4 separate regions of the Homo sapiens genome follow, and regions 1, 2 and 4 are each linked to region 3. The links come from fine-mapping of genetic effects on gene expression. A gene starts in region 3. Each other region holds a variant in brackets. All regions are shown on one strand. Distances are from middle to middle.

The links. PIP is the estimated chance that this variant, and not a neighbour inherited with it, causes the effect.
Region 1: its variant is fine-mapped to the expression of LMCD1 in whole blood (TOPMed, PIP 0.93).
Region 2: its variant is fine-mapped to the expression of LMCD1 in atrial appendage (GTEx, PIP above 0.99).
Region 4: its variant is fine-mapped to the expression of LMCD1 in whole blood (TOPMed, PIP 0.90).

The regions. Positions count from the first base shown.
Region 1 is chr3:8,524,897-8,533,002 of GRCh38, reverse strand. LMCD1 (LIM and cysteine rich domains 1) reads right to left here. Exons shown (of 6, transcript NM_014583.4): 2 at 178-266. Among named protein-coding and RNA genes, the nearest start is that of LMCD1, 27 kb to the right of the region's middle. The variant C/T (reference allele first, on the strand shown) is at 3,579.
Region 2 is chr3:8,558,510-8,566,615 of GRCh38, reverse strand. LMCD1 (LIM and cysteine rich domains 1) reads right to left here. Exons shown (of 6, transcript NM_014583.4): 5 at 969-1,184. Among named protein-coding and RNA genes, the nearest start is that of LINC00312, 9.2 kb to the left of the region's middle. The variant A/G (reference allele first, on the strand shown) is at 5,059.
Region 3 is chr3:8,498,179-8,506,266 of GRCh38, reverse strand. It overlaps LMCD1 (LIM and cysteine rich domains 1), which reads right to left and starts at 4,444. Exons shown (of 6, transcript NM_014583.4): 1 at 4,287-4,444. The coding sequence starts at 4,328. LMCD1-AS1 (LMCD1 antisense RNA 1) reads left to right here and starts at 4,609. Exons shown (of 4, transcript NR_033378.1): 1 at 4,609-4,796; 2 at 7,418-7,717. RefSeq lists enhancers at 5,923-6,856, 6,857-7,790.
Region 4 is chr3:8,624,370-8,632,475 of GRCh38, reverse strand. It overlaps SSUH2 (ssu-2 homolog), which reads left to right. Exons shown (of 12, transcript NM_001256748.3): 5 at 367-427; 6 at 1,547-1,671; 7 at 2,750-2,812; 8 at 4,693-4,778; 9 at 6,155-6,247; 10 at 6,829-6,934. Among named protein-coding and RNA genes, the nearest start is that of SSUH2, 16 kb to the left of the region's middle. RefSeq lists an enhancer at 2,864-2,953. The variant G/C (reference allele first, on the strand shown) is at 3,184.

The DNA of each region.
Region 1 (8,106 bases), 27 kb before region 3:
CCAAGGACTTTTTTCGTTTCTGAATTGGACCAAGCAGGAGTGCCTTCCCTCTGCAGCCATCCTTCCCTGACAACGCATACAACCAAAGCAGTCTCAGCGAAGAAAGCAACCAGGGTTCCCCGAGAGGACAGCCAAGTAACAAAGGCAGACAGGGACCCTCCTGACAAAATCTGTTACCTCCATGAATGTGGCTCGAAGCCCGAACACGTCCCCTTGCATCCCAAACATGCCACACCTCTTGCTGACTGCAGCTGGCCCAGGGACATCTGGAAAAGGAACAGAAAAGAGGGTGTTTTCCTTCCAAACATCTTGGACCGGAGATGCTTGACCTCTAAAAGACTTGGCGTGCTGGCAAAGGGACTGTGTGGGGTTCAAAGGGCTTGAGATCAATAAGCCATCACAAACTGTTTACCGGGAACTGAGAAGACCAAACAGGAACATGGAATGGGGCCAGAGGGTAGGCAATTGTGGAAGGGTGGGGCTCTTCCCAATAAGAATGCAATGGGGGTTCTTTCCCAGCCTCCAGTGCTGTTTCAAAACAGCAAGACTGGTTGGAAACGCCCTGCTGTGAGTGACCATCTATCTATTCCATCCCCCACCCTCACCCACTCTCACTTGTCACTGGAATGGAATCTTCAGTGAGTGTCTCCTCTCCCTCATTTATTTGTGATTTATTGATAGAGTGTGATTAAACCAAAGCTACAGGCACAAACAAATGTGCATTTTGCCAAATGTTTATAGCTTGAAGCATAACTTAAATATTTTGCTAAAACACTGAAAAATCACATGAGCACTTAAAATCTCCTTTGGAAGGAGAACAATGCATGAGACAGGTTTTATTACTTGCTACCAGCCAAAGGTACCAAAAGTGCATTTGCTGCTGCTGCTGAGGTGTTTAAACCCAAATGGCATCTTCAAACCAGAAGCGTCACCTGGGGCTTGCCAGAAATACAGACCCTTAGACCCGACTCCAGCCTGTTTGAATCAGAATCTGTACTTTAACAAAATTCCCAGGAGATCTGCATTACATTAACATTGGAGAAGAAGTGGGTTAGTAATATGGATCTGCTGGCTGAGAAACTTACCCAACTCTCCATTGGGGTTGGGGTGGGGACGACTTGGTACAGGGATGTACTTTATTATGATTTCACCTGAAGCAGGGCTCAATCAACTAGTAATGTAAAGGGATAAGCTTCTTATCCAACAAACATACCATTTATTTAGCATCTACTATGTACCAGACACAGGAATACAACATAAGACTCAGGTGTGCCCTAGTGGAACTCACTGTTAGCTAGGGGGATATGGAGAGAAAAACACATTCATCTCCTGCTCCTGTAAGGGGCAAGTCTGAGGTAAAGGAAGCTGCATGTTGTGTAGTAAAAGAGGCACGAATTTTGGAGTCTGAGAGACTTGGATTCCAAATCGAGCTTTTCAGTAACTTATTGGCTGCCTAGCCTTGGACATACTGAGCCTCAGTTTCCTTATCTGCCAAGTGGATACCGAGATAATATAGTAACGTGCAGGACCACATTAGGCACTAGACATGGTAACTGCTCTTATTTTGCCACAGATTTTAGAAGCACAGGGGAAAGTGTTAATAAATTCATATGGGAAATATGAGTTTATTAGAGCAGACTACTTCTTCTTAGAGGAGGTGACTTTGGATTTGGGCTGTGCAAGATGGACAGGCAGAAAAGGGAAAGGAGATGCCTAGCAGAAGGAAGAAAATGTGCAAGGTAAAAAAGGTATGAAAGGCATGATGAGTAGGGTATGCAATGTGAGCATGTCCTTTGGATGCTACTAGTCTACTCTCTTTGCATTTAAGAGGGAAAATACAAGCAGTGAAACTTGTGAAGCCATCCTCATTGCCAGTGGTAGAATTCAGACGTATGGAAAGAGACAGCTGTCCTTCACAATACTTCTCTTCAGCACCAAATCTTCTCACAATAATGCCTCACTCCATGCCTTCTATTTGGTGACTGCTGTGTACACCATGTCCCCACACACTTTGTCATTTTGTTCAATACATATTTACAGCTTCAGGGAGTGAGAGTCATGTTGCACATATGTGGAGTGTGGAGGGAAGCAGGTTTATATTTAGGCCTATTCAATGCTAGATTCATGTGAAAAGTGAAAATTAAGACAACACCCACTGCTAACTCATTCTCCTAAGCTGGGAGCTTTCTTTCACAGGTAGGACTTTGCTCCCTAAAGCCACTGGCATATAACCTTGCTCATTTCCACCTCCCCTTGACACCTTCAGTTCTCCTAGTTGAAATGCAGTGATCCTTACACACTTAATATTGGAGTCACTCAAAGTTTATTTTGGGAGATATACAACTTGTGAATAAGGCTTCATTGTTGGACCATTTCAGATATACTCAGAAGGCTGGAAACCGGAGAGGTAGGTGGAAGCATTTCCAAGTGGCAAAGCACCCTGCACACTTCAGCTTTATTGTTCTTCTAATGAGAGGCTGATTTAACCCTCATTCTACAAGGGGATTAGTTCTGATGCTTGGCTTGGAGAGTGGAGCTGCAATCTGTCTGCAAACTCGGGGTTTGATTTAGAATAGTGATGTAGGTAGCACAGCAGAGCAGAGCAGAGCACTCGCCGGTGATGCGGGGGTCTGGCCTTTGGGTGCCAACTCTGGCATTTATTAGCTGTGTAACTGGAGATGAGTCATTTCCTTGCCCAGCCTAAAGCATCTCTTCTGAAAAATAAGGAACTGGCTTGCACTGGGGTTGCCCACATTCTGTTCTGCAGGATCCTCACTTGGTGAGATGTTACGAAGTGGTTCCTGGTTGGGAGTGGGACAGAGAATTACCTGATCAAATACAAATGGCAGGCACTGGATGTGTAGAGGCTCCCGAGCCTTTAACAGGCCAGCCTACGTTAGAAGCAAGAAGTGAGGTAGAGAGCAAGCAACTGTTTCGGGTTTGGAGACCCAGGCTTTAGTCCCGGGTTTTAGTCTCAGTTTTTCCCCTTTCCTCCACTGTACTTGGGCAAGTAGGCTTGTTGAGTTCCATGACCTGCGTCATGGGGATAACAAGAATGCAACTTGCCTTGCAGGGTTACCAGGAGGTTAAACGGGATGCTGCCTGAAAAGGGCTTGGCACACACTTATTATGCACTGAGCGTTCTTTGTTGTTGTCATTAATTACATCTTGTGAAGAAAAGTTTGAGAGACCCTGAATTAGATATTCTCAACACATTTTTTTCTAGCTTCAAAATGCTAGGGGACTTCAGAGGAACTATTTTTTCTAAATACACACCCCCTATACTTTCTTATTCTCTACTTTTTTGACTTGTAAAAAGAGTTGCCTCTCTGACTAGGTTTTCCTACAAAATGTAAAAACAAAATAAGCTCACACATGTCCCATACTTAATGATTAACTCATTAAGTGAGGCCATCCCTAGCCCTTTGCCCTCGCGGTGCTCTGCTACCAATCACCTGAAGAGAATCGACGTTAAAATCTCAACAAGCACAAAGAAAGCCCATGCAGTCAGGCAAGTGAAGACACAGGCGACTGGCCTAGTTGGGCAAGAACGCTAAACTAAATGGAGGTTCAGGAAG[C/T]GAGAGTTGGCCCTGGTCTCCATCTGCTAGTGGGACAGTTTCCATGGCAACAGAAGTATGTGGGAGAGAAAAATAAATGGCCTTGCAAGGAAGAAATTGATTCAGGTCATCAGGCCACACTTGCAGCTAGTTTCCTGGCTGACTGTTTAATGCAATAAATAGTCATTTGTCCACTGCATGCCATTCATCCAGAAGCCAGACAGACCCCGCTATCTTCAACACAGAGAGAACGATCTTGTTTACTGAGGAGGGGAAAACATCAGTCAGCCACAGTCCCAAGTGAGATACTCTGGTTTATAAACAGTAGGTTTTTCTGATGTGGGCTCTGTCTCTTGAAAGACGGCACAGTGTCTCACAGTAGCTGAGAATAGAAGAGTTTAAAAGAAACCATCACTTAAAAAAAGGTTTCTTGGAATGCAGCATCTAATCTGTCCTTTCTCCCGAGAACAGAAAGAAATGTTTTGACGATTTTCCTTGGCTTGGGTTAGTAGGATGTGGTTCATTTGATATTATCGTGAAACTGAATGGTGGCAGGGACTTAAAAGGACTTAGATTAGACCAGGAGACCCCTGGGGATGCAAGGAGCAGGGGCAACTCTGGGACTCCTCTCTCAAGCATTTGCCTTCAGGTGAATCCCAAGGGAAGTCTTAGAGGGAAAAAAAATGTCACCAAGAACAATGTAGGGTTGAGAGGAAGAGGAATGTAAAAGAGAAAATGCAACTGGGAATTTAGGGATGAGCATGGGATTTGGAATTAGAAAATGGGGGTTCTCCTTCCAGCTCAGCTTCTTCCTCATGGAGTAACTCAATTGCCTCCTCTGAAAAATGAATTATCCCTGCCCTTTCTTTGTCTCAATAGGGCTGTTGTAAGCATCACGTAACATTAAAAGGCAGTAAATTGAAATAAGTATTTGCCATTGTTAAAAAAATAATTAGATGTGGTGGCTCATTCCTGTAATCCCAGCACTCTGGGAGGCTGAGGCAGGGGGATTGCTTGAGGCCAGGAGCTCAAGACCAGCCTGTGCAACATAGTGAGACCCCAATCCCTACAGGAAAACAACAACAAAAAAAAACTAGGTGTGGTAGTATGTGCCTGTAGTTCCAGCTTACTTGAGAGGCTGAGGCTGGAGGATCACTTGAACTCAGCAGTTTAAGGCTGCAGTGAGCTATGACCACGCCACTGCACTCCATCCTGTCCCCCCGGCCCCCTAGAAAAGTACTTAAAACTCAGACATAAGGCAGAAAGGTGAGTGGCACATCCTTTCAATGTCATATGGAGGCAATATGGCACTGGCTCTCCTCATCCCCATAGGATTATCTAGAGAAATTTACTTTGCTCAGCTCCAAGTCTTTCTGAAGTAACACGTTAACTTGCAGATCTTGGTCCAATAGAGACACAAACAATTTCTGTCCTTTCAAAAAAGATAACCCCAAATGTTATGGTTTACTGTTCTGGAAGACATTAACTAGTTTTGTAACTAACCCATCAATCTTGTCCTAACATTAAATTACTTATAAATACCTAACTCCTCAAGCGCTTTTTAAACTGGCCTAAATATCATACGGGTTCCCTCATTAATGGGTAGAACACAATCTTTGTTAAGTTTCACTTCATATTTGCACAACAATTGTGATTCTATCTTTTTGAAAGTGGTATCTTAGTACTATCACACGCCCTAATGATTACTCACAGGTTTCCTTTCTGAGGTGGTGCGTTCCAAATTGACACAAAATTCTATTCAATGCAGACGTGTCTTTTACAGGTTAAGTTCTATAAGCATACATGTTATTAAAGATTATTGGTCAACATGACTTGTTATTTAAAACAAACCCTTCCCTAGGGGTTCTGGGAGAGAAGCTGGAGTGAGATGGGTTGAGTGGAATAAAATTATCAGAAGGTCCAGGAAAGGACTGGAATTGTATTTAAAAATATGACCCTGAAACTACCCTACTGCCATGAATTTTACTCAGTGATTTTACTTAGTAATTCTCTTATTTAATAATATGACTTCCCACTGAAGTATAATTATTATCATCATTATTCCCAGTCAAAAGATGATGAATGACCTTGAGTCTGAGAGTGGAGAAGCAACTTGCCCATCCAGATGGTCTCCATTGGAGCTCCTTTGAAGGCAGTGGTGGTGGGGTATCCTAAATCTACCTTTTCCTATACTGGCCTTTAATCAAAAGTGTTTTATCTTTCCCAGTGATCATGATCATAGTTAACATTTATTGAGTACTTCCTATGTGCCAGGCACATGCCAAACATTTTCATGATATTTCATCTAAACTTCTTGACAACCTTATGAGATAATTTCATTAGCCTCATTTTCAGATAAGGAAACTGAGGCTCAGAGAGGTTAAGCTCTTCTTCAAGATTCAACAGCTAGTAACCTGTCCAAATTTGTCTCTATTTCCATATTATTTACTGTTTCCACCCAGATTCTCTTTCCAACCACCTGAGCCTCTTGCAGAACTAAATCCACGCAAACTCTGGGATTTTGCTTATGCTCATCTAAACCTCAGAGAACTTAAAACCTGCCGACTCTTTAGGGACCATCTTTAGTCCCATCTTTTCCATAATCAAAAGTAACAATAGTAGCTGTAACAAGTACTAGGATTTGTGGTTTTCCAGGCACTGTGTGAAGGCTGACCTTGTACAAATCTTACAACAACTCTACAAGGGAGGTATGTTGCAGTGGTTCTCAAGGTGTGGTCTCTAAGCAGCAGCACAGCAGCAGCGAACTTGTGAGCACTGCAAATTCTCAAGCCTCACCCCAGACCTATGAAATCAAACATTCTGCAGGTGGGGCCCAGACATCGCTGTTCAAGACCTCCAGGTGATTTTGATAAACAATTAAAGTTTGAGACCACTGATACATTGTTAGTGCCTCTAGGTTGCATATGAGTTAACTGAAGGGTAACTAACTGTCCTGGTTTGCACTAGACTGTTTGGTGCCTAGGATGTAGAACTTTTTAGTATGAAAACCAGAAAAGCCTGGAAAAATCCAGTATCTCTAGTTAAGTGGGGTTCAAAGGGGTCAAATTAAAGTGCTAGAGCTTAGATTTGGACACAGGTATCTGAATTCCAGATCCACATTTTAATTTAACCAATGCACTACAGTTCCATGCCAAAGAGCCTCTTCCAGATATTTTGGGGCCCTCACACGTTTTTCTCAACTCACACAAATGTAAAATTACAAATGGAATCAGTGCTAGGAAGGAGAAACAGTGTGTCATGAGATTGTCCTTTAGCAGGGGATTTTGCCTGTTCTGGGTGTGTGAGGAGGGGAGTGCTCCTTAAATTAAGTAAACACTCTGATTAGCACAAAATCACCTGGGATCTAGCTCAAATGCACACTCTGGTTCAGCAAGTCTGGGCAAGCCTGACATATAGTTCTACCTACCTCCCAGGAGAAACCATTTCTGCTGTCCCAGGGACCACGCTTTGAGTATCGAGGGGCTACAACAGTGGTTCCCTAACTTGTCTGCAACATTAAACTCTCCTGGGGATCTTTTAATGCTTCCAAAACTTGGGCTGCATTCCAGGCAAATTTTGCCACAATCTCTGGGGGTTGATTACAGGCATCAGTATTTCTGAAAGTTCCCAGGGGATGCCAATGTTCAGACAAGTTTGGGAATCATTTGGTCTCACCATTGTAACTTCAACCGTTCCAACTTGGACTTTTAGGCTCTCAGCTCATTGTCTTAATAATCTCCCTTCCTGGACCTTTGTGCACTGTTGTGAGGAATGTAAATTGGTACAGCCATTATGGAAAACAGTATGAGGTTCCTCAAAAAATTAAAAGTAGAACTTCCATACAATCCAGAAATCCCACATCTGGATATACATCCAAAGGAAATGAAATCAGTATCTCAAAGAGATAACTGCCTTCCCAAGTTCACTGCAGCGCTATTCACAATAGCCAAGATATGGAAACAACCTAAGTGTCTGTCAACAAATAAATGGAAAAAGAAAATGTGGCACATACACCCACGTACACACACACAAACACACACACACACAATGGAATAATATTCAGCCTCAAAAAGGAATAAGAATAATGCCATTCATGACAACATGGATGAACTCAAGGACATTATGCTACGTGAAATAAGTCAGGCACAGAAAGACAAATAATGATCTCATTTATATGTGGAATCTAAAATAGTCAAACTCATAGAAACACAGAAGAGAACTGTGGTTGCCAGAGGCTGAGGATTAAGAGAAATGGGAGGATGTTGGTCAAAGGGTACAAAGTTTCAATTAGGCAGGATGAGTAAGTTCTGGAGATCTAATGTAAAGCATCATGACTATAGTTAACAATACTGTATTCTATACTTGAAATTTGCTAACAGGGTAGATCTTAAGTATTCTCACCATGTAAAAAAATTAGTTTGATTAGTACACAATGTATATGAATATCAAAACATCAATTTGGGCTAGGCTCGGTGGCCCACGTCTATAATCTCAGCACTTTGGCAGGCCAAGGAGGGTGACTTGCTTGAGCCCAGGAGTTTGAGACCAG
Region 2 (8,106 bases), 60 kb before region 3:
TACTGACCCACCGTAAGCCCTTAATAAATGATAGAGAATTGTTATTGTGCATATACTGTTGTCACTTCAAAAATGAGGCTCCAGGGCAGGCCTGTGACAGTCCTTTTCCTTCTTAATATCACTTAATAACAGAGTTATTAGGTAAGAGGACTACAGGGTCTTAACTTCATATGGTGACCAATTCGTAGAAGGTGGTAGAAAATAGATGTTGGTTCAATATAAAGAAGACATTTCTAACCTTCATACATGCCAAAGATGAAGTTAGTATATTGCCTGCAACCAAAGGCATGCAAATAGTACATACTATGATCATAATTAGTATTGCCATTATTAATACACCTTAGAGTTACTTTCATCAAACCAGTATCAGAGACTTGAATCTCTTTCATAGCATCTCTATCATATTGTATTGTATTGTGTCATATTAATGTTAAGTCTCATATTATAGTATATTATCGTAAGACTAACAGCAGCTACCATTTATAAGTTCCTAGGTCAGGCCCTGTGGCAAGCATTTTCATGCATTATCTCATCTATCCTCATAGCCACTCTATGGGATGGGCGCTGGTCTCATCCCTATTTTATAAGTAGTAAAACTGAGACTCAGCTGAGGCTCCGGAGTTAGGTAACCACATGATAATAATAATAAGAGATGCAGATACAGGTTTGAACGTGGGCAATGCCTCCTGGTTCATCCTGCTATGTTCTGAGTACTTACTAAGTGCTAGGCATTATGCCAAGGACAAGATTCACCGGCACTGTGTCTGACCCCTCCCAACAATCCCATGGTTGTCTGCCTCATTTTGCAGATGAGAAAATGAAGGTTGAGAGCATGCAGTGAGGCCTGACTTCAGTTTCCCAATCTGTAGAACACATCATCCACAAAGCCATGCTCCTCTTGGCCTCTGGGCTTTTACCCTCAGCAGTGTCCCTCAAGCCCCCTAACCCATCTCGCGGCTATCTCCCACCTCATCGCAGCCGGAGCACCGGGGCCGCAGACTCTCGCAGTAATGGCGGCCGCACCAGGGTGCACCATCCTTCCAGAAGTAGATGAGGTCCACCAGCGGCTCGGAGCACTTGGCACACACAAAGCAGGTGGGGTGCCACTGCTTGTTGTAGCCTGCCCTGTCCGAGTAGACCACGGGGCTGTCAGGAGGGGCCGCTCCCTTGCAGAGCTCGCAGACCTGGAAGGATGGGGAAGGACCATAGGAGACAAGGAAGTCAGGAGAGCACAGTGACATGGGTTCGAATTCCAGCTCCAGCCTTTCTACTTCCTGGGTGACCTTGGGCAAGTCACTATACCTCTTCGTGCCTCAGTTTTGTCATCTGCAAAGCGACACAATAATATTGCCTACCTAACAGGCTATTCACGAGGACTAAATAAAGTTATTTATTTAGCACAGTGATTCCCAAATTGTTTGGTCTCAGTACCCTTTATACTCTTAAAAATTATCAAGACCCCTACAGAGTTTTTGTTCATGTGGGTAATAGCTATTGATATTTACCATAAGAGAAATTAAAACTGAGAACAATTTAAATTTTTTTAATTCATTTAAAAATGACAATACTAAACCTGTAATACATTAACATACCTATCTTGTTACTAAAATAACTATATGTTTCAAAACAAAAAAAGTAGAAGAAAATTTTAAGACATTGTTTTATATATCTGCAAATCTCTTCAATGACTTGCAGAAGATTGCTGGATTCCCATAACTGCTTCTGCAGCCCATCTTTTGCATGCTGTTGTTTTGGTTGAAATACATGAAGAAAATCTGAACTCACACTGACATAAAGTTGGAAAAAGGAGGACGATGCATTTTAAAGGACCTTCCAGGCAACTGTGGATATTCTTCTTTGATACTACAGTAAAATTTGACACAGGATACTTTCTCAAGTTAGTTGCAGTGTGAAATCTGAAAGCACATCAGTGAACCTTTCATATTTGTTTACATTAAAACCTGTTTGTTTACCTTGCACTTTGAATGGATCTTTTTACCCGTGCATGAAGAGTTTTAAATAATATTTAATAAATAATATTTTTGCCTAGAAGTGGTGCCTTATGCCTTTAATTCTAGCACGTTGGGAACTGGAGGTAGGAGGATCATTTGAGGCCAGGAGTTTGAGACCAGCCTGGGCAACATAGCAAGACCCCATCTCTACAAAAAAATTGAAAAATTAGCCAGTTGTGATGGTGCTCATCTGTAGTCCTAGCTACTCAGAAGACTGAGGTGGGAGGACTGCTGGAGCCCAGGAGTTTGAGTTTGAGGCTGCAGTGAGCTATGATCGTGCCACTGCATTCCAGCCTAGGTGACAGAGTGAGACCTTGTCTCAAATAATAATAATAATAATATTTGAGTAGTTCTAGAGTTACAGAAAAATTGCAAAAACAGCACAGAGAATTTCTATATATTCCACACTCAGTTTCTTGAGTTATTAGCATCTTACATTAATAAGGTATATTTGTCATAATTAATTAACCAATATTGATATGCTATTATTAACTAAAGTCCAAACTTTATTCACGTGTTCATAAACTTTACCCAATGTCCTTTTTCTATTCCAGGATCCCAGATTCACTTAACTGTCATGTCTCCTGAGGCTCCTCCTAGCTGGGACAGTTTCTCAGACTTTGTTTTTGGCCACCATGACAGTTTTGAGGAGTACTGGTCAGGTGTTTTGTAGAATGTCCCTCAGTTGGGATTTGCCTGATGTTACTATGATGAGTACGTTGGGAGGAAGATCACGGGGCAAACTGCTCCTCTTATCACATCCTTCAAGGGTACATACTGTCGCCCTCACTTGTCACTGTTGCGGTTGACTTTGACCTTCTGGTGGAGGCAGTGTTTGTCAGATTCTTCACTGTAAAGTGACTCTTCTCCCCACTTCCATACTATCCTCTTTGGAAGGAAGTCACCAAGCCCTCCATGTCTAAAGAGTGCTCCATCTCCTCCAGGGCCAAGTATCTACATAAGTTATTTGGAACCCATGCATGATTTTGGCAGATCCCCCAAAAGGACTCCATGTATGTTAGCTAACATTATTTTTTAAATACCTATGGAATTATCTAATTTATATCTGTTCTCTCCACTAAGCGGCTAGCTGCAGAGGGCAGAGAGAGGCTGCTTGGTTGCAGCTCTGACCCAGGACCCTCTACTGGGCCCCGCACACATAAATTCCCCATCAATAGTTGCTGAATGAAGGAATGCTCCACCCTGCCATGAGGCCTTTGCCGTTGCTGTTCAGGATGTCTGGTACATTGTTCCCGTTCCTGTTTGCCTGATTAACTCCCTTTCATTCTTCAGATGTGAGACTTAAAGATCTTTGGTTCTGGGAAATCTTCTCTGACCTCCTTCCAGGGGCAATTAAGTCCATAATAAAGCTTCTCTGCTTACCTTTCTCTGTATGGTTGTTTGATACCTGTTCTTTCTACACTAGATGGAAGCAGGAGCCACATCCAACTATGCTTGCTTTCACATCTCCTCGGTGCCAGGCACATAGTAGATGAACAATAAATATTTGGAAACCTCTGCCCTCCCACCTCATACTTCCTACTTAGGGGACAACAGATGAGTGTGGAAGACACTAGCAGATGATGCATCTGTCTGCACCTTAGAGACAGGTTTAGACTAAGTGCAGCAGAGAGCTGGGCTCCAGAGACAGTTGTGGAAAGTTCTTGGGAGCTTTCAAAACACTCTTGCCTTTCAGGGGCTCATCCATGTTTACTGAGCATCTACTGTGTGCTAGGCCCTGGACTAGATGCTGGGGATACAGCAGTGACCCAGGCAGATAATGCCAGAGCCTTCAGGGAAACTGGAGCTTTGTGTGTGTGGAGGCAGAAAATAAATATATAAAAAAACAGATGAGATAATCATGGAGTGTGATAAATACTAGGAAAACAATCACAGGGTAAGGGAATGGAGAGTGACTTTGGGGGTGGATAGCAGGGACCACCTTAGCAGGAGAGGCCTCTCTGAGGGATGAGGGGCTCTAGGGATCAACCACATTCCTATTTATCTCACAGCAATCCTCTGGATAGGAGATGTAGGTACACAGGAAATGCACTCATTTTATAGATAAGACCAGCGAGGCCCAAGGAGACAAAATAGCTTGTGAAGGGGGGCACAGCCAAGAAACAGAGCTGGGATTCAAACTGCCGCCCTTGGCTCTGTGGCTTTCTATGGGAACTGAGCTGGGTCGGGTGGGGAGACTAAACTCAGGGAATTGTCTGAAGGGCTAGGAGGGCTCCCAGGAGAATGCATTCTGGCATGGCAAAGGAGCAGCATGCCCAATGGCTAGAGGTGAGAAGCAGCTTCCCTACAGGGCCTCTCAGCAGTTAATGTAGCCAGTGCCTGGCTGTTTGTCATCCTCTTTCCATCTGGGGCTCCTTTATCTGTCTTTTACTGCCAGTAACATTTTCACTGGCCTGCTCAGAAACCATGACAAGGTGGACCTCAACTCATGTTGTTCCTCAGCTTCAGTTAGGATTGGGGCTTTGTGGGGAGGGTGAGTGTGCCTGGGAGAAGTTCTCTGTGAGAGCTCTAGATTTCTGTCTTCTGCCAGTTCCCAGGAGCAGTGAAAGTTGCTAAATGCTCATTCATTCACTGGTTCATTCAGGTATCCATCCATCGCACATTTATAACTTGCCTATTCTCATCCTCTAAAGAATGGGAACTTGACATTCTCAATCCACACAATCTTTTGAGTCATTTTGGAGTTATCCCCTGCTCCTGTAAGCCCCGATGATGATGGAAACGACAATGGCTGTCATGTCCCTACAGCGTGTCTGCATCCAGCACTGTGCTCAGGACTTTGCTCGCATTACTATTACCCCTTACATAAGCCCGAGAGAGTTATTTCTCCTTCTAGAGTTATTTTTCTATTCGGAAAATCATTATCTTCTCTCTTAGAAATTACAAAACTGAAGGTCAGGGAGATTCAGTGATTTGCTCAGTAATGCACAGCTGATGGGAGGCAAAGCTAGGATTTGAACAAAGGCCAAACCTGACTCCAAAGCCAAAGTTCTTTCTACTCCATCATGTGGACTTGAGATCCGGC[A/G]TCAGTAAGCTACGGCCCATGGCCAAACCCAGCCACTGTCTGTTCTCGCAAGCCCCATGAGAATGAAGACTGGATTTTACATTTGCCCTCCAATTCAGTGAAATGTTTTCTCCCAAGAAAGAACCCCTTCTGCTTTTCTCATTAGTAGACCTATATTGGAAAAAAAAAAAAAAAAACTCTGTGCTCAATTATTATTATCTTTTGAATTTCATTTAAAAAACCCATGGAAAGTTGTTTTCTCTCTTGTTACATAAAGTGCCCACATGATATTGCAATTTTGGCTCTTGGCTCACATCTCCTAAAATATTTATCACCTGGCCCTCCAAAGAAAGTGTTTGCTGAGCCTGGCTTTAGATGCTAATTTAAACTTAGTAAGTATCAACTATGTTTCAGCCAAAATAGAAATATTTACTTTTTTGCCATGTGAAGACAGGGAAGCACATAAGAGTTTGCACACTTACTATTCTTAACTTATATACTTTGATTACATACTTAATATACTCATATATTGAAGAGGAAATAAACATTAAAATGGTGAAAATTAGGAAAAGAACACTGAATAACAAGGAACGTCATGTACTGATAGCAGTTTCTGAGCGTAGGAGCTCTTGAATGACTGCCTATATAAGGAATGTGTTTGGTCAACTAGATATATCTTGAACTGGATCCTGACTGTGCCTGATAATGTTCCTTAGAACATGCTAGATTTGTGGTTTCAGTTACACCCCCAAGAATGAGTGGTGTGAGTTTTTCGCTCAAATGAAAACCCTGTTCCTCTTCACATGATTGAGACTCAGCTGGCTTGGAGCCCATCAGGGGGTCTAGACAAAAAATCAGTGACCAGTCATCATCTACTTATTTTCACCCTCCCTCCTGCATAGCTGGGAACTGTAAACTCTTTGGCCAGGGCTGTCTGAATACAAAGTGAGTTGTCTGTCTGGCTTCTTATTTCTACAGAATGAAATTTCCAGCTCTTTCCCTCCCACACAAAAGGGACTTCGTGTCAGTTCACCAAACTACACCCCATTGGGTAACACCATGATATATCAATGGGGCTCCCCACTCCACATTTACAAATGTGAATTGACATGAAAGTAGGGAAAGGGAGAGGGATAGAAATGCACCTGGATTGGTCTGGGGAGCACCGGCAGGCACCCTGATGATACACTGAAGGAAGGAGGGGGATATCAGGTCCAAAAGGCAGTTTAGGGTGATCATGGGTGGCTTTGAACCCAGGTTATGGGTTGGGACTTCACTCTGGAGGCAATGGGTAGCCACGACTGGTTCTTTTTAAGACATTTTAAAAATATTTAAATTTTTTGTAGAGATGGGGTCCCACTATGTTACGCAGACTGGTCTTGAACTCCGGAGCTCAAAGGATCCTCCCGCCTTGGCCTCCTAAAGTGCTGGGATTATAGGCATGAGCCACTGCACCTAACCCGTTACTGGTTCTTGAGATGAGGAGTTCAAGGTTCTAATTTGCACTGTAGGGAGATATTCTCGCAGCAGTATGAAGGAAGGAAGGAAAATTCTTGTTCACAGAGCTTGTTTGCAACCTTCTCATCCGTTGGAAAGCACTTTGTGAAGCCCCTCTTGGAGGAGCATTTCTTCCCTCACTGTTCTCCCTAGCATCCCTGGCTCTTGGACTGGTTTCTACCAGTAGCCAGCCCCTTTAAGCAAACAGTATCATTATCACTCCATGAAAACAAGATGTCCAGGTAAGGAGCCCTCTCAACATGTGTCAGGATGAAATGTGCTCTTCTTGCCTCTAAGCCATTTTCTGTATCCTTAACTCAGTCATCTCAAAGGATGAGAGACCTGAGGTTGTCCTGGATCTATCGTCTGGTGGTCCCTCAGCCACGAGAGACAAGCTAGCAGCCGAGAGTCAGAATGCCAGCCTACTTGGGTCTCATCATCCTGGCCCTTTCTCAGCACAAACTTAGTCTCTCCCACAATTCTTTGTAGCGAGGTTTGCAATTTCTAAATTGCAACAGGTGGCTGAGAGGGGAGATACCAAGTCAGACTGCCTGGGTTCATAGCTGTGTGACCTTGGGCAAATGAACTAACTTACCTGTGCCTCTGTTTTTTCACCTGTTGAATGGCGATAGTAATGATAGCAACCTCATAGGATTGTGGTGTGAGTTAAATGACATAATGGAATTTTTGGACTTTATAAGGGCTCAATAATGATTTGCTAAAATCTCGTGTATTCCTTAACTCTGCCCACCTTGCAGGCTAGAAATGTAAAGCCCAGAGGGATTAAACCACTTTCCTAAAATGACAAAGATATGTTGAAGGCAGGTTTGGAGGCCTGGATTTCCTTCCATGATACCAAGGGCATGTAGACTAGCAGGAAGTCATTCCTGCCACTGATGAGCTCTATTTTTTCCCCTATCAGTTCTCTCCATTTGTGCAAGGCCAGAGAATCGAGTCGTGTGAGTTTTTCATCATTTGCCACTGCTCCAGACTCAGCTCCACTCATCCCCTGCTTGGAGGGCCTGCTCCTCCCCATATCTGATCCTGCCCCTGGAGACAGTGGTTCTCAGGGTTGAGCCTGCCTCAGTATCCCCTAGAGGGCTGGTTAAAACATATCTCTGCTCCCCCACCGCCACCACCTCCCCACAGTGTCTGATACAGTAGATCTGGGGTGGGGCACAAGAATTTGCAAGTTCCTAGGGGATGCTGGTGTGGTTGGGGCCACACTTTGAGAACCGCTGTTATAGACTGTTTAAAAATAACTTTATACATAAGCTCAGCAAAACTGATATCACCAATTCAGTTCAGTTACAACAAAGGCTCATTTGAATTCCTGGGATGTTTAAACTCAACACTATTTTTTAAGAAAGACCAATGAGGCCATTCTCAGGTTACTTCCCCTATTAAGGAGCTAGTATGGTCAAATGGAAGTTCTTTGGGACTATGGTAAAAGGCATGGAGAAGAATGCTTTATAATTAGCATATCAGTTGTTTCTTGTTCATGTTCCCAAATATCTAAGATTGGAGCTTGCTCGTGAGAACGTTTCCAACATTTGTCATGTGACCTTGTTT
Region 3 (8,088 bases):
AAATTCCTAGCCTTGGAGCTGAGATGCTTAGATTAAAGCCTGAAGATAATCTGATGAAGCTCTTTCCTGCCTCCCACTACCACAGTGGCAGATACATTGGTGAAAGTCAACTGTCAGCCCCCAACTCCGCATAGTCAGACACACCTGCAGCTTAGGACAAAAATCTGCAATTCACAAAGTAATGGTTTCAGCATCTGTTTTTAGAAAGCATGTAAAAGGGACTTGGATAATTTCTGTTTTTAAAAAACAAGGCTCTATTATGGCAAAAAAGTTGCTTATACACCTATGGGCATGTCTCCAATGTCTTGGCTATTAAGGTCTTTAAGTGACAGTTTAATATGTTTTTAAGATTGAGAGAGCCAACGACAATTCACGAGGAGCTGTGTTTACATTGGATCAGCTCACCCGGGTGATGTGCCAGTAGTTTGGCACACTGCAGGAAGTGGAGGTGAAAGCAGGAAGGGCTGAGTACAGAGGGAAGGCCTAGCCTGAAGGACAGGAAAGCCAAGAGGGATGTGATGTAGAGAAGCATGGAGAGAGACATCCAGGTGGACCTGGCAATGGACTTAGAAGTACCATCATTTAATGCCCCTTGGGCATTGTGTTGAGGGGTGAGAATTTCTAATTGGATCCCTCTGGAGCCAGCCCACTGGTGACTGCACAGTCAACTATGAACAGGTTCCTAGCTCTCTTTCTTCTAATCCCTTCTAAATTCCTACAGATGGTTCCTTGACAGTCAAGGGGTCTGTATTCTTGCAGAGCCTAATAGGCTTCAGTACATTTTCTCTGCAACTTCTGATAAGGAGCTTGATCCCTCTGGGCCTCAGTTTCCTTATCTAAAAAGTAAGGCACTCCAAGTCCCCTTCGAGGCCTAACATTATATAACTCCAAAGTGAAATGCTCAATAACTGGCAATCCATGTTCAGAAGGAAAGACTGTTCCATGTAAGCAGATTTTGCACCCGTTGGGTGAGAATGAAGGCAACAGCATTTGGTCATTGTCTTAGCTTGTCAAAGCTGAGCAATGGCTTAGGTTCAGCTGAATGAAAGTTAGGTGCTCTTCAGATGGGGCAGTTATAAATAAAAGTGTCCTCATTCACCAGAAAATTCCTTTCCGCATCCATGCACCCACTGAAATGTACCGCCACCACCAAGGACTGCCATGGCTAACTCTGAGTGCCCATATGCTGAGCCTTTTATGTACATCATCTCACTTAATTATCACAGCCATCTTGGGAGGTAGATGCTGTTACTGTTTCTTCAACTTTCAAATGAGGTGAGGATACTGACTCAAAGTTAATTAGCTTGCCCAAGAGCACACAGCTAGTAAGTGGGGGAGCTGGGACTTAAACCAGATCTGAAGCCAAAGCCTGCACTAATAACTTGCATCCTTAATAAACAAGAACAAATCCATAGTCGAGATTGGTTTCACCCAGAAAAATGGCATTTGGCCTTCAAGGCCCTTTGTTACCAAGAAATGTTGGCGATTTCACCATTCTCAGGGAACTGTCTGTGCTAGGAAACCTTCTCTTTCCTAATAGAAAAAAAAAGATGGTTCAAGAGCAGCCGGTGGAAGCATTTTACTTAGAAAGAAAGAGAGAAGTTAGGGAACTTGTAAGCTCTGCCACGATGTATGTATGTGGCCCCCAGTGAGTCTCTTTCCCCAGCCTGTCTGGGGTTGGTTAGATGACCTTTAAGTCTACTCCAGTTTTTAGATTTTATGTTCTTTGCTGAAGATCTTTTTATGACTTTCCAGTTGGTGGGGATTCCCGCCCCAGCCCCCTCGGGGGTAGGGAAGCGGAAACAGCCTGTATGCCATTTTAAACCATTTCTCATTTTGTAAATAGGCCCCTTGTAGCTCTAAGAGTCTATGAAATTGTTTCAAAATGTCTAAGTGCGATTATGCATCCTGAAGCCAAATGTTATAAACCTCCCCCACATACTGTTGCAGATTTAAAAAATAAATATGCAGTAAAAGCTTTTCAGCGTGTTGCTGATATCACGTAGTACTTAATCACTTCTGTGACATTCAGTTCAGCAAGGGGAGCTTCTCGGCTCTCCTCCCTCCCCTCCACATTTTGAGTTGAAGGCATTGGTTAACCTACAAAATGGTGATCTTCCTCCTGATTGTCGCAGTCCCAAGAGATAAAAAAAATCTGCCCTTTCATCTCTACCCACCACATTCTTTCTCTAAGCCTGTAATTGGATCTAAATGGAAAACAAACCCTTTGCAGGCCAAGGAAGTTGGCACTAGGGGGTGACAAGAAGGAGAACATGTTCCACCTCTAATCAGGATAATCACACTCCCCTATGCAAAGGAAAATAAAAACAAGGCTTCCTCCAAGTGGCAACACAGGACTGTGGTGAGGAGGAGGAGTCTCCATATACCTCATCTCACCTCATACAGTAACTATCAACCAGCTTATATTAAAAATACTCAGAATCATTTCACTTTCCAGAGGACAATGGAACTCTGCCACCTTTAGCCGTGAACTATTCTGTGTCTGAACTTGGGGAGGCAGTTCAGACACACAAATATCAATGCTACAAGTTAAAAAATAATGCATAAAATGAAGCCTATGCAAACAGTGTGGTCTTAGCTGGACAGATATTCTCATGAGTCACCCACAGGTTTTTGAGTCCTGCTGTGTGGCATGGTGTGCTATGTTCAAACAGGGATGAACAAGACAGGTTTGCCCTCAAGGAGTCCAGAAAAATGTATAGAGAAATAAGAGCATTGCATGCATAACTCACTACTAGGTAGCAATTAATAGGTATCTTCTAAGAGTCTAAAATGTTATGGTAATTTCTGTAGGAGGGGAAATGACTTGATTCTGCAAATAGCTTGGCAAATGCAGTGAGGCATGATACATTCCAGACAAATGCCCAGATTCAATGTGACTTGGTACCCACATTTAGAAGGATCCACTGGACTCTGTGACAGGGTCTGGGCAGGTGGTCTACAGAAGAGCACAGCTACAAATTAGACAGTGCATGCTGTGCCTCTGAGTGGCTGTTTGTGTCTTTAGTTTGATTCTCACGTCTTTTGTTTTTCCCCCTCTCATTCTACCCTGCAGGTTAATGGCAGATATTTAAGGAAGACTTTGCCCTTCAAGACTAAACCCTGTGAAATCAGAGTTTAACAATGACTGCTTTGGGAAATTAACTCACAGTGTCAGTATCCCTGCTACCACTGCCATGAGGGAGGTTAGGCCTATCCTCCCCACATCAGAGACAAGGAAACTGAGGCTCAGAAAAGTGACCTGGTGAATCATGTGCAGTTAAAAAGTGGCAGGGACTGAGTCTGGATGCCTAGGGCTTGCCTTACAGTCAGCTGCCTGTTAGAACCAACTCTCTGTGACCCCGGGCCTCAGTTTCCCGATCTGTAAAGCCTAGGTTGTCTCTCTGTTCCCTTCCCGTTCACATGTTCTCTAAGTCTCCAGCCTGTGCCTTCTCCCAGCTGCATTCAGGTAGGCAACAAGTGGTATTGGAGCTATAGGCACAGCCGCAGGCTCCTGTGCAGGAGTTTACCCATGACCTTCTGGGCTCCGGGCCAGCCCTTCTTGTAAGGGAAACGTGCAGACCCTGGGGACAGAAATCAGTTCCCTTATGCTGGAACTGCTGCCACTGCCAACATCACCAACTAAAGAAACTGCGTGCGTGTGTGTGTGTGTGTGTGTGTGTGTGTGTGTGTGTGTATTGGGGGAAACACACAAAACACTGGGATAATAGCAAAAGGGAGACTGTGAGTAAATATTACATGCTCTCAACCCTTACTTCAGCCACCTGAGGACAGGGAGTGAGGAAGCTAGGGGTTTTTCCTTTACAGACCATAAGATTTCATATATATATATTATATATTATATATATTTTATATATAATATATATTATATATATTTTATATAATATATATTATATATTTTATATATAATATATATTATATATAATATATATTTTATATATTATATATAATATATATTATATATATTTTATATATATATTTTATATACATTTTATATATATTGTATATATATGTAAAACCTTAATTAAACTTTAACTAGCATCACCAAAGACATAAGACCCTTTGCAAATATTTTACACAACATTGGGTTTGGGGTGTGTGTGCCTGTTAGCTCAAACATGTATTCCCAACTATTTGTTTTCCATGCAGTTTTGGAATTTAAAGAGTTCCCTTCTCATTACCTTTTGGGAAGTTTCCGCGAACAGATGGGAAGGGGAACAAGAAAAAGTAAGAATCTGGGTAAATACAAACAGCTTTCCACTCACCTTTTTAACTCCTGGGTTGAGGTCCTTAGCCACCTTTGCCATCCTCTTCTGGGGTGGGGGAACAGCGCCTGGCTTCTCAGGCAGAGGCGCGAGGGCGCGCAGCGGGGACAGCGGCGGCTGAATGGCCAAGTTCGCGGGCCTGGGAGGGAGCTCTGTGCGCAGCCAGGCGCAGCTGGGCCGCTTTAATTGGAGAGCGGGACTCCCTCTAAAACCTCGCCAGCCACTCCGCGCCGGCGCTCGCGCGAGGCCAGCCAATCCCAGCGCGAGGCTGTCCCCCTCCCTCAGGGAGGTCTCTGCACTGTGGCAGCGAGCGGAGCTGAGCGCCGGCTGCCCTGACGTCAGCATGGCCGCGGCCCCTGACTACCCAGCTCCCTTCTATCCCTCGAGCGGCAGGAATCCGTCCCCACGCCCTTTTCCTTTAAAGGGCAACGGGCCGAAGGTGGGGCGGGCGGCGCGGCTCCCGCGATCCATTCAGGTCAAAAGGGAGAGTGATCAAACAGGAGAGCCGAGGTATTTTTAGTGAGCTGGATCCAGAAATAAATGCTGAGCTGTGCTCCCCTTCCCACCCTTTCTGCCTGGTCGTAGGGGGCGCGGGGAGGGCTGAGGGAGGAGGTGTTTTGCAGGAGCTGGCTAACGTTTCCCAAACCTGGGCGAGTTCTCCAATATCCAGAGAGGAGAAAAGATTCCAGCGAGTTATGATTTTTTTAAACTTAACGTTCGTAAAGTATTAAACTGCTTTCTTATAACTTGCTTTAACATAAATCCTTCTTATTCCATGAGCAAGAAATCACTGTCCTGATCTTAGAGATGCTCCTGTGGACATACTGTCTTGTTGTATGCTCATATTATCTCAGATATTATTATTATTATGACTGTAAGACGATAGATGAGGAAATAATCAGAATAACTGGTCCACAGCTGAATTACTGAGCAAGGCTTTAACCTGAGAGACTGAGAGTAATAGAGAGAAAGCTCATGGGGGCGTGGCGGGGGGGGGGAGGGAGGCGGCGGGCACAGGATTGTAAACTATAAACTAGGAAGTTAGTAATTTTTAGATAAATGGGGTCATGCAGGCCTGGACAAACAAGATTCCATCTGAGTTCACAAATCCATGGAATGTGGAGTCCTTGCAACGCATAACATAACTACTCTTATAAGACAGAATTGGCCAGGTTCCTCTCTCTATGCCACGTTGTTTGCCTATAAAGCCACATCTCTCTGCTGAGCCGGTTCCACAGACTTGGATTCCAGAGGCATTTCCCCCCTGCCCTGACAGAGGATTAAACACAAGCCCTTTTTATCCTAGAGAGAATACTGCTGTCTCTGTTGTGAGGTGTTCGGCCTGTAACCCGTCTTTGCAGTGCCCCCTGCCAGAAAAACCAGGGTCCCGTGGGCTAAAATAAAACTCGGTTGCACAGAGACTGAAGAGTGGTCCCGAAGTACACCATTCGGGAGGGATTTGGTGAGAAGGGGAGGCTGCAGTTCCCACTGTGGGGCTGTCTCTTGCTGGAGGCTTTTTCCTCTTGAAAGCCTCCTCCAATTTAGTTCTTATCATCATCTCCAGTCATCCCAAATCTCAGCCAGGGATCCTGAATTGTGACTTTTTATTACATATTCCTGGAAAGGGCTTTTTGTGGCTTATCTTTTCCAAGATGAGGGATGACCTATTTCTTTTTTCACAGATTTCTGCTATAATTGATTTTTGCCTTGTTTGCTCCCAGCTATGTCCTCAAACACCTAGCATGTGGTATAGGCACAGTACACATTTGGCAAATGAATAGAGGTTGGGTTCTGGCTTTTATTTTTTTTATTGATACATCATGATTGTACATGTGGTATTTTGATATATGCTTACAATGTGTAATGATCAAATCAGGGTGTTTAGGATTTCCATCACCTTGAACATTTATAATTTCTTTGTACTGGGAACATGTCAAATCACTTTTAGCTTTTCTTTTTTTTTTTTTTTTTTTTTTGAGACAGAGTCTCGCGCTGTTGCCCAGGCTGGAATGCAGTGGCGCGATCTCGGCTCACTGTGACCTCTGCCTCCCAGGTTCAAGTGAGTCTCCCACCTCGGCTTCCCAAGAAGCTGGGACTACAGGCATGAGCCACCATACCTGGCTCATTTTTGTATTTTTAGTAGAGACAGAGTTTCACCATATTGGCCAGGCTGGTCTTGAACTCCTGACCTCAAGTGATCCTCCTACCTTGGCATCCCAAAGTGCTGGAATTACAGGAGTGAGCCACCGCACCTAGCCTCTTTTAGCTATTTTGAAGTATACAATTCACTGTTGTTGACTATAGTCACCCTACTGTGCTGTTGAATGCTAGACTTTTTCTTGCTATCAGACAGTGTTTGTTCGCATTAACCAACCTCTGTTCATCCCCTCACACCCCAGCCCACCATTTCCCAACCTCTGGTAACCTTCTTCTACTCTCTACCTCCATGCAGTAAGCAGGCAAAGTAAGAATAGGGAGAGATGGTGCAATGGCACACCTGGCCTGGTTTGTCCAAACTTCCAAGGTAGGCTGCATGTTAAACCAGTATGTAAATAAACAGTGGCCAACAGAAGCCTGGCCTGGGAGAGGAGGTTTCCACATGAATAGTCCTTTCAGTAGCAAATCCTAGGAACAATAGTGCTAAATCAGGATGTCATGCCAGAAGCCTTTATATTTTAGAGCTGTGGGAACAGAAGCCAGGAATATAACAAAGGCAAGCTTTATCCCTTTCAAACGAGGCAAAAGCCTGCCCAGTGAAGTCATTTCCCACTCCCTTCCCAGCCACCCTCCTTGCCCCATCTTGAAAAATCATTGTTCCATGAAATAATACTAATTTTATTAAGTTAACACTATTTATTAATAGCTCCAACCACAAGAGTCTCTCCCCCTCCTTATTTTTACCCTTGGCTCCAGGTACAATTAAGGAGGCAGATATTGCAGCTGTTTCTCAGAATTTCTCAGAACACGAGTGTCAGGAGCTGTTGCTTGGGGTGGCTCATTCCCTTCTTTCTGGAAAAAGACCTGCTGTAGGCAGAGAGGGGATCCCTGCTATCTGCTAGAAGTTGCTGTCTCCTCAGCTGAGGATTCTGACTTTGACACTTTAAACCTTACACTTGACCCTCTTGTTCCAGGGGACCTATATTCAGAGACTTAACCGGACACCTGGACAGACCATTACAACTTGGGACTTTTCAGGAGAATGAGGGAAATGTAGTTATTGCACCTGAGCCTCACTCCAGCTCTGAGGTCCTCTTCACTTCTCTTTGGAAGAAAATTGGATATCTTTTCCTAGTTGAAAGAGTAGAGATCTGATTTCTCCAAGGATCATCGCTTTTTGACACGGGATTATTAGAAGCATTCATTCATCTATCAAGGAGTTTTGGGATACTTGCCATAAGCCAAGCCCTCTGATAGGTGCTGGAAACATCAAGGTAAATAAAAGAGTTCTTCTCCTTGGAGAACATATTGGTCTAATAACTACTTCTGGGGCTCCCTGGTTGACAGAGCCCTAATCTTACTTGAACTCCAAGACAACTAGTCTCAGAGAAAACAGAAATCCCAAACAGTCCCAGGGCTGTATCAAAGGTCATACAGCTGGCAAGTGGCAGAGCTGAAATTTAAATTCAGAGTTTTTAACTTCAGATTGCACCCTTTCACCTATACTGCACTGCTTCCATAATGATTGCAGATGGTTGATTATAAGCAAAACAGGAAGCACTTGGATTAAGATGCTGCTGTTGTTGTCATCATTATCACTGGGCTTGTCCTAACTGGGATTTTTGACTCTGAGTCTCGTATTCTT
Region 4 (8,106 bases), 130 kb before region 3:
GGGAGATAAATTCCTCCATAAGGGAAATCTCAAAGCCATAGATTCCAGGGACCTCCATCTATCAAAGACAGCTACTGCTCTGAAGCTTGTCTCATAGAATCTTTGTATAAATTCATGGGGAACTGAATTAGCTCTAGTTTGAGCCTGTCAGGGGAGATTTCCTGGGGCTGGCTGACTTCCCTGCAGACATGGGGGCACGTGGAACAGAAATCGCTGTTGTCAGCCAGTTCCAGCAGCCGAGGGTGTTGTGCATGGACCTCTCAGTTTCCCCACTGAGCCCTGGGAGGGTAACAGCTTCATCTTTTTGCATAATGCTCTGTCTTCATAAGGGGCACGAGTGTGAACATGCTGTTTTTTTCCTTTTAGTACCGTCTGGAGACCTTTAGTGAATCCAGGATAAGCGAGTGGACATTTCAACCCTTTACTAGTAAGTGAATTGTCTGAAATTAGTTTAACTGGGGGCAAATAAGTCAGGGTGCTGGTGGAAAATATCAGGACTTGGCTCAGGCACTCATCTCAAATAAGATGGTCTTCTGCTTGGAGCCTTGGCTTCCTTACCCCCTGCAAAATGAGAGGATGGACTTTCATCTCAGAGACTTTCCAGTGCTTATCTTAGGAAATGCTTCCTGCCCAGGAAGCAGGAGGTCCTGAAAAAGCCAAGCATTTGCTTTTGCTACAGTCTGGTGCTGCCACACGGGGCCGGGCTGTAAAGCAGCATGCGTGTCTAAGCATTCACCTACACCCCCTCATGCCACCCCTAATTCCTCCTAAGCTTCTAGGCCCCTGTGCTCCCCATTCGCCTTGCCACCCCACCTTCTGCTGAGCCCCCACTGGAGGCCTAAGCTTCTCTCTTTGGGAAGATCTATGTCCTCCTTGTTTTCCCTAACAGACCGCTCAGGTCCATTCTTCAAGACTCAGCTCACGTGTCACTTCTTTTAAGAAGCTTTTCAGGATTTCTCCTCCTGCTGCTCCCCTCCCAGCAGGATGGGCCAGTCTTCTGAGTTTTCAGAGCCCTTTATGCAACTCTTGTCCAAAGCATGTATCATATCCTATCATATCTTATTGTGATGGTGTGCTGTCTGTCTCCTTGAACAGAGCAAGAGGAAGAAGATGGGATGGTGAAGGGGATGGTGATGATAATGGTGACAATTCTTGTGTGTCATCCCCTCAGTATGTGCCATTCCTGGTGCTAACAATTTTATATACATTCTTCCGTTTAATTTTCACTACCATCTTGTATGGTAGGTGCCATGACTATCCCCATTTTAGAGATGAGAGAATGGAAGCTCAGAGAGGGTAAGAAACTTCTCTAAAGTCAAACAGCTAGGACATAAAAGAGCCAGGAGTCAAACCCAGATCTGTCTCTCTCTAAATCTTGGTTGCTTAGTCACTGCCTCCAAGGAAGGCCTTGACTATCCATCCCTGTAGCCCCAGGATCTAGACTCATGCCTGGCACCAACTGAAGGCTTCATGCTGTTTGCTGGATAAATGAAAGTTTATCCCTGCTGCCCTTCGTCATTCTTACAATGACCCCTTTCTGTGTCAGACCACTCTGTGGATGGGCCGCAAAGAGGCGCCTCCCCCAGGCTCTGGGACATCAAGGTTCAAGGTCCTCCGATGTTTCAGGAAGACACCAGGAAGTTCCAGGTCCCTCACTCGTCACTGGTCAAGGTAATACGATTAACGCGATTACTGGAATACTTGCCCTTCTCCCTGAGAGGCTTTCCAGGCACTGCATGTTTCCTCAAACTCATCCTTTGAAGGGAAACCCAAAATTCAGGCCGGTGCTTCATTTGTTGGTTATAAATAAACGTAATTTAATAAAACCTGGTATATGGAATGTAGTCCCAAATAAAATTCCAAGCAAATCTGGGAGTGTTCACCTAGCAAACAGATCATCCGATTTACAAATCGTCACCAGCTTTAGTGAGCAGTGACATTCCTGGACAGGTTGAGTGTAGTTTTCATCTTTTTTAAAAATTTATTTTAGCTTAAACAGCTGAAGGGCTGAATGAAATTGATATAAAATAAAAACTTAAAACCCTGCTGGGATTTTGCATGAGAGTCAGTAAGGAAACAGAATCTGACTTCCATCCTGCTTTATGGACATATATTCGTGGCGTGAAGGGAGAGGAGCCTAGTGGATTACAAAAACACGACTGAGATAGCTCATATTGTGTTCTTTTCCGGTTACTGCCTGCTTTACACTTTTGGACTGGATTTAAGGGTGCAATTTTGCTCTATGAGTTTTTACAGAGTTCTAAGATAAAGAGTACTTTGAGAGGTCGAGAAAGTGTTCTATTCCTTTCTCAAGGGGGCCAAGGCTATTTTAAATTAGTGATTAAATACTAGTAGCTAGCTCATTGCCTTTCATAAAAATCCTGTCCATTTTTTAATGGCTTCTGTTCCCAAAGACCACATTAGCTACCTTATGGGCAAATGCCATCAGCCTTTGTAGTTCAGCCTGGTAGGAAACCGTAGAGTGTGAGCTAGGATATGGGGCTCCCAGAACACGTCTCCCCTTGATGGCATCCAGATTGGGCTAGGGCTCAGAGGAAATGGTGACATGATCTCCTGATGCAGTCAAGCCTTCTGGAATCTTAGTCAAATGGGAAGGGCCATTTCTTTCCTGTGCCATCTTCCTATCCTGGTCCTGATCCACTCCACCTTCGGTTTAGATGGTGATGTTATGGGTGTGGGAGAAGTGGCCCTTGGGAAACTAGATCCCAAGAAAGCGTTGCACTTTCAGGAATGCCACAAATGCCATGGGCGTGGGCGGTACAAGTGCAGCGGCTGCCACGGGGCGGGCACGGTGAGTCATCTGTGAACCACTGGTGAGTCAGTGAGGGTGTGGTGGCCGGGGGATCCTGGGGACAGCGGGCTGGGCTGGTGGCCTGAGGCTCCCTGCAGTAACTGTGTCATCTCAGCCAAGTCATCCTCCCTTTCTGGGCCTCCATTTTCCCGTCTATAAAATGAAAAAGTGGGGTTGTGTGGTCTCTAATGACACTTTCACTTTGACAGTTCGATTTTAATTTTTCTCTTATTTTCTCATCCATCTACCAACATACACTGAATACCTGCTTGGCTCTGACCTCTAGGTCCTGTAAGAGGGCCAAGACCTGGGGTTCTTCTTACCAGGCAGTCTTTGTCAGCCAGGGAAACCAACAAGCAACTCCATTTGTC[G/C]TGCAGGGCAGTGGGTGCTGAGCAGGTAAAGTTTGGAAGGCTTGGAGAGACAAAGTAGACAGTGACACTTGAGTTAGTTTCCTTCGGCTGCTGTAAGCCATGACCACCAATGGGTGGCTTAAAACAACAGACACAGCTGGGCGTGGTGGCTCACACTTGTAATCCCAGCACTTTGGGAGGCCAAGGCGGGCAGATCACGAGGTCAAGAGATCGAGACCATCTGGGCTAACACGGTGAAACCCCGTCTCTACTAAAAAAAAATACAAAAAATTAGCTGGGCATGGTGGCGGGCGCCTGTAGTCCCAGCTACTCAGGAGGCTGAGGCAGGAGACAGGCGTGAACCCAGGAGGCAGAGCTTGCAGTGAGCGGAGAACGTGCCACTGCACTCCCGCCTGGGCGACAGAGCAAGACTCCATCTCAAAAAAACAAAAAACAAACAACAGCAACAAACCAGACACCTATTATATCACGGTTCCGGAGGCCAGAATTCCAAAATCAAGGTGTGGGCTAGGCTGGTTCTTCTGGAGGCACTGAGAGGGAAGCCATCCCCTTCCTCTCCCCCAGCTTCTGGGAGCTGCGGGCCGTCCTTGGTGTTCCTTGGCTTGTGACTGTGCCACTTCAGTCCCCACCTGCCTTGTCACCCAGCCTTCTCCCTGCATGTCTTTTTGTCTTCACATGGGCTTCTAATAAGAACACGTCATCGGATTTAGGCCCTACCTTGTCATATGACCTCATCTTAACTAAATGCATTTGCAAAGACTATCTCTAAATGAGGTCCCACTCTGGGATTCCAGTAAACTTGAACTTGGAAGGGCCGCTATTCAACCCAGCACAGGCCCCTCAGTGGCATTACTCATGGCATTAGTTGTCTTTTCAGAAACCTTCATTCAGGCCTATTAACAATCCCAGGGGGTAAAACCAAACTTCTCGCGTTCTTTGGTGTCCTGATTCGAGCCTCATCCTTTGGCCATGCTCTGACCCTGGCTACCGTGAACTGTCTTCTCCACCAGCCCTTTCATCCCTCGCCTGCTGGGTTTGCATCCCCAGCTCACTCCTGCACTGCCTGTGGGTCCCAGCGGTGGTCTTCCCTGGAATGTTTCTGGAGCCCACCATGAGCCCAACTGGGAGCACAGCCTAGGCCTTTTCTGGGGGCCATTTCTCAAAAGGAGCCCCCTGTCTCCAGTGCCAGGCCCCTGACCAGCGCCTGTGTCCCAGCTTCCTCTCAACACTTGGTAGGGGTCAGGTCTCAGGGGTTGTGGGGATCAGAGAAGAGGCAGGAGAGGCTGATGTCTCAAAAGAAACAGGGATCTTAGGGAGTGGAGGCTTTGAAAGCTACAACTGGAAGGATCCAAAGATACCCCATCTCCACCCCGCACCATTTTACAGATGAAGGGGCTAAGGCCCAGGGGGAGGAAGGTCACCAGGCTGGGATTTGAACCAGGTCTTGGGATGCCGTTGGCCCTGCTTCCTGGGAGGCCAGCGGGGGCTGAGGCAGTGGTGTGTCTGCAGGTGCGGTGCCCATCCTGCTGCGGAGCCAAGCGCAAAGCCAAGCAGTCCCGGAGATGTCAGCTGTGCGCGGGGTCCGGCAGGCGAAGGTAGGGGCATCTCCCCAGCACCGCGGTGAAGTGCTCTTGCTTTCTGGCTTTTCATTGCCTGCCCATCTGGAAGGCAAACAGGAACCCATCTGTCTCGTCACTGCTGTGTCCCCAGAGCTCTGCACGTAGTAGGTGCTCTGTGGTTATTTGAAGAGTAGGTGAGCTTTTCTCAAGGCCTGGCATTTCTGGACAAGGCTGGAACTCGTCATGCAATATATGTGGAAAGAGTGTGAAGAAAGAGCCACTGCAGGGAGGAAACACAGGGACGGGGTTACCAGGAAAGGAGACCTCTCCCGCCCACGGGTTGGGAAGTGAATATCAAAAACCACCTAAAGGCCAGATTTTTAACTCACTGAGGATCAGTTCCTGGGCAAGCCCCTATTTATAACTCATTTTGGGGTCTGAATGGAGGAGGAGTCAAGGAAAGTTGGTTGATTGACTAAACAATAAACAAAATTTCATCACTGCTCACAGCTTTGCAAACACTGGGCCATTGCATTTTGTAAATCCTATCCTTTAGTGTATTTATAACTTTTTAAGGGAAACAGGAAACCGTGAGGAGTAAAAATACTCAAGGTTGGGTTGGTTAATGATACTTTTGCCTCATTAAAGCCCAGGCCATCCTTCTGACAAGCCAGTTGGAGAAGCTTTGGTGGCACCTTCCATCGTGGTTGGTAGAGACAGTCTCTGACTGGGAAAAAGACACTTATTTTTCTTTCATTTGCAAGTGAAAGGAATCCAATTCAAATTGGCTTTGGCAAAAAAAGTCGATTTACAGGCCTAGGTAAGAATGAAGTCCAGGGGTATATTTCAGGGATGGCTTCAGGCCCAGCTGGATCCGGGTGCTTAAACAACACCACCAGGAATCTGTATCCACCTCTCACTCTGCTTTCCTTTGTGTGGGCTTCATTTGCAGGCAGGGGGTTCCTTGTAGTGGCAGAGGAGATCACCAGTAGCTCCAAGCTTACTAATCCCAGGAGAAAAGATGTCCCTTTCCCGATAGTCCCGACAAACATCCTGGGACAGATCTCATTGCACTCGCCTGGGTCATGTGCCCATCTTTGTATCAGCCACTGAGACCAGGGACATGGAATAAGATGATTGGCCAGTCCCAGATCCCAAGCTGTTCACAGAATTTAGTGGTGGGGGAGGGGGGGGGGCAGGCCCTAGAGCCATGTGGGCTGGGTGGGGGAAGGGTGATCCCCATAGAGATATTGGGGCACTGCCAGCAGAAGGAGGACTAGGTGGTGGGCAGGTACAAACAATGCAGGCCCACCACAGTCTACCTCCAGGAGGAAGGGGGTGCAGGTGGGAGCCTCTGGAAGCCACCAGGACCTGCAACTGATCTGGGGGTACGGACTCTGTGCCTTTCTCAGATGCAGCACTTGCTCAGGGAGAGGGAACAAGACCTGCGCCACCTGCAAGGGGGAGAAGAAGCTGTTGCACTTCATCCAGCTTGTCATCATGTGGTATGTGGCAGTGTCTCAATGCTGTGGCATGCGGGGGTGGCTGAGGGACTTAGCCCTGGACTGGCTTCTGCAGAGAAACTGTGGTTGGTTGGGGCTTTCACAGTGCAAGAACCTGCCAGGACTTAGAAGGGGGAGAATTCCCTTGGAAGAGGCAGTGTGGGGTTGTGGGATGCTGACTGGCTTTAGAACAGACAGACCTCAGTCCAAATTCTGCCATCACCACTTTCTAGGGCAGCAGCCGCTCCACAACTGAGCCCTTCCCGTAGGAATAGAGCCATAGCATCCTGCTACGTCCCTAAGTCAGTCAGGGCTTCCGTGCATTAAAGGTTTCTCCTGTCTCAGGCACCTTGCTAAGTGCTTTGTAGGCAAAGATGAAATGAGGTAATGGAGCTGAACTGTCACTCTCCTTACTAGCTTCATTTTACAGGTGAGGAGACTGAGGCTCAGAGAGGCTACAGAACTGTTGCAAGGTCCCTCCAGTAGCAATTCAAGCCCTCAACCCCAGGTCTGTCTGATTGCAAAGGCCATGCTTTTAACCTGCCACACTGTGTGCTTTCATCCCTCATCCTCCTTCCCTCCAGGAAGAACAGCTTGTTTGAGTTTGTGTCTGAGCACCGGCTCAACTGCCCCAGGGAGCTCCTTGCTAAAGCCAAAGGAGAAAACCTCTTTAAGGATGAAAACTCGGTGGTAAGAGGGCATTGTAGATGGGAACAAAGGAAGCTGGGTTCCTCCTCTGCTCTCGTGGGCCTGGGGCTGCTAGCTGTGTGTGCAGGCTGCATTCCTTGGAAGGACAGGTTGTGTAGGAGCAGAGCTCCCCAGACATGGATAAGGCTGTGGGGAGCCTGGGGGCTGTCAGTTTCCTTTTGACTTTTACACACTCAGCCCTCTGTCCTTCCCCACCCACCATGCCGTTCTTCCTTCCTAATACTCTCTTTCTCTCTTTCCCTCCCTCCCTTCTTCCTCGCTCTTTTCCTTCCTTCCTCATCCCCTCCTTCCCTTTCTTCCTCATCCCCTCCTTCCTTCCACAAATCTTGAGACCCTCCTCCTATATCAGGCACTATTCTTGGCCCTGGGTAGACCATGGCAAATAAAACAAGGACCCTGCCCTCATAGAGCTTACAGTCTGGTGAGGGGACTATGATGGACCCTTTTATAGCAATGTCAGATGGTGAAGGGGCACTGAGAAACATTCAAGCAGGGTAAGGGGCAGGGAGGGGTGGCAGTGTCGTTCCAGCTGGAGGTGGGAAAGCCTCTTTGTGGAAGTGACCTTGGGCACAGACCTGGATGCAGGGCAATTGGGGAGTGGACCTTGTGGCGTGGGAGCGAGGGGACAGTGGGGCAGAGGCCTTGAGGACTGGCAGAGGGCAGTGAGCAGGGCAGAGCTAGGAGCTCAGAAGTGAGAGGTACCTTCAGCCAGAGGAGAGGGTCCTGCGGGCCAGGAGTTGGCACACCCAGCCCACTGCCTGCCTTTGTCGATAAAGCTTTATTGGAACACAGCCCCACGCATTTTCTGACAGGTTGTCTATGGCCGCTTTCCTGATGGTGGGACAGAGCTGGATAATGACAGACTACATAGTCTGAAAGCCTGAAGTATTTACTATTTGGTTCTTAGCAGAAAAGGTTTTCTCACTCTGCCGTTGGCCTTGGCAGAGAGATTGGCTTCAATGGGACTTCTGATGGGGGTCCTCAAACTATAGGGAGGTGTGTCAGCCTCCTTTCTTTGCTCCAGTAATTTGGCTTTTTAAAGGCTCACCTCAGGCATCCCCCCACCAGAAGCCCTGCACCCCACTCTTCCATTTGAGTTAGGGATTTCCCCCTGGGCTCAGCTCAGACTGAGGACCATCCCTAGGCGTCACTGG